Linked DNA regions of Homo sapiens. The protein of the gene in region 1 purifies or fractionates together with the protein of each later gene. This does not show direct contact. Each region holds a gene or a part of one and is shown in the gene's direction. Other genes may lie near its edges.

What was found. Proteins that work in one complex are often made in the same cells at the same time.
Region 2: the proteins of ZEB1 (region 1) and USP54 purify together in Homo sapiens (affinity purification with western blotting; 2 studies listed by BioGRID, with this or other methods). This does not show direct contact.

What each region holds. Positions count from the first base shown.
Region 1 is NC_000010.11:31,322,216-31,325,715, forward strand, and holds part of ZEB1 (zinc finger E-box-binding homeobox 1), read left to right. Parts: intron 1-3,500. UniProt on the Homo sapiens protein: Acts as a transcriptional repressor. Inhibits interleukin-2 (IL-2) gene expression. Enhances or represses the promoter activity of the ATP1A1 gene depending on the quantity of cDNA and on the cell type.
Region 2 is NC_000010.11:73,514,843-73,518,342, reverse strand, and holds part of USP54 (ubiquitin carboxyl-terminal hydrolase 54), read left to right. Parts: intron 1-595; coding exon 596-1,968; intron 1,969-3,500.

The sequences.
Region 1 (3,500 bases):
GTTATATTCCATTGTGTTGTGAAACCTCAGTATATGTGCTGGTTAATATTTCTTAGCAGTGCAGTCATATTTAAGTTGCAGATGTTTATTGGAGAAAATTGCCTGGCAAAACGTTAACTCTCAAATCTTTTTAATGAAGAAATATGTGATATATACAGTGGAAGATTGTCGTAGAGATAGTTTATGTTGTTATATATGTAAATAATGTTTTATTCATTTTGAAATAAGATACGTGGATTTTGCTGCTAAGCCTTCTGTAAAATATTTTAATTTCCTTTCTGGAATATGTCTGAAGGTAGGATATTAAAAGGAGTATCAGGTAATGTAACTGACAGGGGTAAACCAATTGAGTAAGGTTTGGCCAAAGCATCAAACCTTGTGTGGTAACTTAATGATGTTAGTCATCCGTAAAGGAGTGACATTAGAATTGCTTGAATTAGTTTTTACCATTTATAATTTCATGCTTTGTTGCATTTTAAAAAATCTGTCTTTTTCTTTTTCTGCTTTCTTCTATGTGGTTTTCTTCTTGTTCTACCTTTTTTTTTTTTGAGAGAGAGATGTACTCTACTAATGACCACATGCTGATTAATTCTCTTTAGATGGAATAGAAGGTACATATCCTTCTGTCATCAGCACCATTTCCCCTTGCTGTCATTGGAAACCACCAGTAGAGGATGCTAACAAAAATGATTATTGGTGTGGTAGCATCATAAGTCTCTCTATCGACTGTGCTGATTGGGACCTTCAGTATAATTCTGAGTCTTATTGTTACTTAAAACTAGCCTTGGTTAAATTAGGCATAAGCATTTTCTAGTTTGCCGAAACTAGAAAGAAGCAGGACTGTTTTAACTTGAATAATTTTATAAATTTGAGTTATTTAAGTCTCTAATTGAGATTGCTGTTAATTCATTCTTGTTTTAGAGCAGTTGTATTACTCCTTATTTTAAAAAGATTTTGTTTTATGTTCTTAGGTTTGGAGAAGAATATGTAATAATTGACCCATATTTATGTTGCATATTTAGAATACTTTTTAATCACCCCTTTTTAAAATTCATAGTAAGATCCCTTAAAATATATATTTTAGATGTTAAAATACATCTAAAATGGTCAAAGTTTAAGAGTAGCAAGGAAAATTACAATTGATTGATAATACTGTGTAATTATTTTTATATAACTTATGTAGACTTAGACTATGGATGGGTTGGCAGAGAGCTACTAACGGAGGTGGTAACTAGCAGTCACTTAGATGTTAGTGATTTTTAGATTTTATCTTTTCCTTCCCCTTCAGGTCTTTTCCTACTGGTAGCCCTCCCCCACCTTTTTAGTTAAGAATCAGTGAGTGCATACGTTTTAAATTTGTCAGTTGTAATTAAGGAATATAAGTTTGCTTTGAGATCTTATATGCAGTAAAACTCTGTAGTTCGTACGTTGCTGTATGCTTGTATTTAAATAATTCCTTTCAAGAAACTATATAAATTGCATATAAATAATTGCATGAGACTGTATTTAGTTATGTCTTTTCATTTTGTGTTCTTATAGGTATATTAATATAACTGTAAATTTTAAGCCTCTCATTAGGTAGAACATTAGAAGTATTTATTTCCTTAATTATTTTTAGTGGTGTTTTTATAAATGCATCAATATCAGTACCGTAATGGAATAGCCATACTGTTTATCTTGAACTAAGTAGGTATTGAATTGCCAGGTAAGCCTGTGTTAATTTCTTATTTTAGGATGTCATGGTTCTTCGTGTGTGTGTGTGTGTGTGTGTGTGTGTGTGTAAATAGTTTTTCATTTCCTGACAGGTATTTCTTGAATTTAGTATTCTAATTCCTGAGGGCTCAGTAGTGAATAGGTGTGATTCACTTAAATGTTTATGAACTCAGAAACTTTGCCACAAAGTCACGAGATACATTGTAGCATGGAGCAAAACTTAAAGTATCTTATAAATTGAAAATATTAATCGTTTATGAAGATGACCCTGATATAAAAAGCATGTGAAATATTTGTTTAATACTGTTTTCTTCCTTTCTCTAGTCTCTAGTATGTTTGAAATGGCATACCTCCTATGTAGTAGCTTTTGAAGCATGTGCTGAGAAACTTCTGTTAAATTGAGAATGATATTTTTAAAATAAGAGCATAATGATTTCTCATAGTTGTGTTTTTCTTTTGCTTTATCCTCTTGTGGATTTACCTGTATAAATCACTTTTAAGCATGTGGTTAGAGCCAGATGTAAACACAGATGCAGTATCATGTGGAATTATATTGTTAGCTACTCTTAACTACCTGTATTGAATTGCAGCAGAGGAGGAGAAAAATCATGCAGATGTTGGAAGAAGATATGCATTAGTGTGCAAGAGTACAGCGAGAGGTTAGAAAACTTGAAGCTGTAGAAATAGGATTGAAAAAGGTTTCTTTGCAGTACAGTCACTAATTTATGTGGAAATGCATGCTCTTTATTTCTAATTGAGATATAAGCTAAAATAAAAGTCCATTGTTGAAAGAAAACTCAAAAAATTTTAAACTAGAAAAAGTGTCCTGATTAGGAAATATGATAAAATGATTTTTTAAACTACTTTTTAAAGGGTAGATGTTGTACATATTACTGGCTAAATAATCATTCAACTAGATATGAACTAAAAGTAGTAAGCAAGTAGAAATATATGTAGTAGAGAAAGTTTTGTAGCAACCCTAGTTAAAATTAAATTTGATCTATTATGTAGGCATTGCCATATAAACTAATCATTCTTTTGCATGGGGCAGTGTTTTGAGTATTATGTCACTAAAGGAAACATCTTTAGGACATTAGTTTTACTAAATAAAAATTTCAATATGTTATGAGCATGTCTGGATTTTAGCCTTGATGGAGGTGGGTTACGCTGTTAACTTAAAACTGGGTTGCTTAAAAAGATGGCAATATAATACAGTACTTAAGTAGCAAAATGCTCTCTAATAAGTAAAATTTGCTTTATGATTGTTTTCAGAGAAAACAACTTAATTTTTAGAACTTCATTAATTTTGTTAAAGCATATTTTTGGATTATATAATATGGATGTAGATAAATGGAAAGATTATGAAAGGAAAAGCAAAAAATTGAATTCAAGTGTCTATTTGTATTATAGCTGTGAAACTTTAAGCTTTTTTCATTCTCTACAAAGTTACTTTTCTCTTTCTTCAAACAGCTCCCTGTTGTTTAATACACGTTCCCTCTATACATAGGGATTGCATTTATCTGTCCATATGCACATTTCTCCTCCTAATCAACATTATGTATTTATTGAGACTTGGTACATGGAGGTTGAGGTATGAACTATGTTTGTAGAAAACCTTACAGTATGGCAACCTGGGAAAACCTTCATCTCTTTTGCAGTAACAACTACATCTGTGCTGAAATTATTCATAACAGATGTTTTGTGATCTCTTAATTCCCTCCCTCTCCCTTCCCCTCCCCCATTCAGATTTAAAATTAAATGTGAATGGAAGATAAATTTATAAATTA
Region 2 (3,500 bases), about 42 Mb from region 1:
GGAAACATCTCAGTGACTAATAGAACAAAATCCAGATTATAAAAACATATTTGAAATGGTTAATTTCTGTGTATTCCCATGAGCCCAAATCACCCTGTATTTTGTAAATGTGGCCTCATAGTTCCTTTGGCCGGGCTGCCTCTCAGGACCCCAGGTAGGACTTGCCTCCCTGTATAGCATCCTGGATTTTTGCTGTTTGGTATGAGTGATTTTCAGGCTTTGCTTACCTTCCATGTCATCTGCATGTGAGACTAGCTGATTTTGTTTCCTAATTTGCAAGTAGAATGTGATTGGAATGCGACTTCACAGGTAGTGAAGAATATTGGCAAGGGCTCCACTTAATGTTACTGTGCAACTTTGGTGAGGGTGTTTAATAAAGAGGATTAACGTTACCTATTTACCTGAGTGTGAGCTGACCATGTGCCTTTTCTTTTGTGATCCTCTGAACTACTGACTCTACTTGTGCTTGTCTTTCTGTTTATTTTTACCATTCCCTGTGTGAATAGCTAGAAATGGGAATGGAATGTTGAGTTCTTTCTGTAAGTGTTCCTGTCAGTCAAGGCAGCTTATGACTAGCTCTCTCCATTTGTTTCAGTGAACAGCCTATCCCGCTCCAAGTATTGTTAAGCCAAGAGGCCCAACTGGAATCCGGCATGGATACAGAGTTTGGGGCCAGTTCTTTCTTCCATTCACCTGCTTCCTGCCATGAGTCACACTCATCACTATCTCCAGAGTCATCTGCCCCACAGCACAGCTCCCCCAGTAGATCTGCCTTGAAGCTTCTGACTTCGGTTGAAGTAGACAACATTGAACCCTCTGCATTCCACAGGCAAGGTTTACCTAAAGCACCAGGGTGGACTGAGAAGAATTCTCATCATAGTTGGGAGCCATTGGATGCCCCAGAGGGTAAGCTGCAAGGCTCTAGGTGTGACAACAGCAGTTGCAGCAAGCTCCCTCCACAAGAAGGAAGAGGCATTGCTCAAGAACAGCTGTTCCAAGAAAAGAAGGATCCTGCTAACCCCTCCCCGGTGATGCCTGGAATAGCCACCTCTGAGAGGGGTGATGAACACAGCCTAGGCTGTAGTCCTTCAAATTCATCAGCTCAGCCCAGCCTTCCCCTGTATAGAACCTGCCACCCCATAATGCCTGTTGCTTCTTCATTTGTGCTTCACTGTCCTGATCCTGTGCAGAAAACTAACCAATGCCTCCAAGGCCAAAGCCTCAAAACTTCATTGACTTTAAAAGTGGACAGAGGCAGTGAGGAGACCTATAGGCCAGAGTTTCCCAGCACAAAGGGGCTTGTCCGTTCTCTGGCTGAGCAGTTCCAGAGGATGCAGGGTGTCTCCATGAGGGATAGTACAGGTTTCAAGGATAGAAGTTTGTCAGGTAGTCTAAGGAAGAACTCTTCCCCTTCTGATTCTAAGCCTCCTTTCTCACAGGGTCAAGAGAAAGGCCACTGGCCATGGGCAAAGCAACAATCCTCTCTGGAGGGTGGGGATAGACCACTTTCCTGGGAAGAGTCCACTGAACATTCTTCTCTTGCCTTAAACTCTGGGCTGCCTAATGGTGAAACTTCTAGCGGAGGACAGCCCAGGTTGGCAGAGCCAGACATATACCAAGAGAAGCTGTCCCAAGTGAGAGATGTTAGGTCTAAGGATCTGGGCAGCAGTACTGACTTGGGGACTTCCTTGCCTTTGGATTCCTGGGTGAATATCACAAGGTTCTGTGATTCTCAGCTTAAGCATGGGGCACCTAGGCCAGGAATGAAGTCCTCCCCTCATGATTCCCATACGTGTGTAACCTATCCAGAGAGAAATCACATCCTTTTGCATCCACATTGGAACCAAGACACAGAGCAGGAGACCTCAGAATTGGAGTCTCTGTATCAGGCCAGTCTTCAGGCTTCTCAAGCTGGCTGTTCTGGATGGGGGCAGCAGGATACCGCCTGGCACCCACTTAGCCAAACAGGTAAGAATGCAACCAGGGGTTGGGGGGAGGGGGGAGGATCATATAAAAGCTGAAAGCAGGGAAAGATCAGAAGGGAGTGTTCTATACAGATACTATCCCCAGCTTAGTAGGAGGTAATAGAACTTTTGACTTTACTCAGAAAGCCTTCAGGACAAGACCTAGACATTTTTCTGGCTAGAGTGGAGGAAGGGGCAGAATTACCACTCATAGGCAACTTCCCTCCTTCTAAAGTAAGAGATTACTAAGTATTTGCCCATGGCTTCTCCAGTATGCTGTGCTAAAGAATGGTTCAGGGCCGGGCACGGTGGCTCACTCCTGTAATCCCAGCACTTTGGGAGGTCGAGGCGGGCAGATCACAAGGTCAGGAGATCGAGACCATCCTGGCCAACATAGTGAAACCCCTTCTCTACTAAAAATACAGAAAATTAGCCGGGCGTGGTGGTACTTGCCTGTAGTCCCAGCTACTCGGGAGGCTGAGGCAGGGAAATCACTTGAATTCGGGAGGCAGAGGTTACAGTGAGCTGAGATCGCACCACTGCACTCCAACCTGGGTAACAGAATGAGACTCCGTTTCAAAAAAAAAAAAAAAAAAAGAATGGTTCATAGGTGTTTGAGAGTGATTCAGCATGACAGCATGAAATGGAGGGAGGCTGAGAGGAAAATATATTCTTCTATGGCTTAGAATCCCAAGATTCAGCCTCCAGGTCTGCTTTGCAGTAGGATGTCCATATGCTCAGTGTGGACATTTCCAGATCATACTGAACCAGCAATATCAAGACCTTCCTGATCCCTTTAGGAAAAGTCAAGTTTGGTGTTCAAGGAATTTTTAATGTACTATATGCCTACAGGGTAGCCACTGACTGAGATAATACAGAGTGAAGAGTAGAGCCTGCACCTGAAGTGCACATCATAGTCAGTTCTGGAAATTGAAGACATGAAGAATGTTTGTAACTTACATTGATGCACTTAACTCCAAAGCCTGAACTATTTTCCTGATTCCAACATTAACTCTCAGTATAAATTTGGACAAGTCACTTAATATCCCAGGGCCAAGGTTTTACCTGTAAAATGAGAGAACTGGCTTTTTTTTTAAAAAAAGATATGTTCTAACTCTAAAATGGCATGTATGATTCTGTGAAATTGAACTTGGAGAACTTTTCCTTAGCTTGGCTGTGACAGTTTCTGTAATGGTGCAGGTTCCTTGCATGCTGACAACCAACATATAATTACAGTTGAGTAAGTGTTTATTGAGTACTTACTGTGTTCTCCAGAGCCTTTGAGGGGAATACCACATAAATATAAGATTTGATTTTTTATTCATTTTTTTTTTTTTCTGAGAAGAGTTGCACTCCTGTTGCCCAGGCTGGAGTGCAATGGCGTGATCTCAGCTCACTGCAACCTCCGCCTCCCGGGTTCAAGTGATTCTCCTGCCTCAGCCTCCCAAGTAGCTGAGATTACAGGCGTCCACCACCACACCTGGCTAACTCTTGTATTTTTAGTAGAGACAGGGTTTCACCACGTTGGCCAGGCTG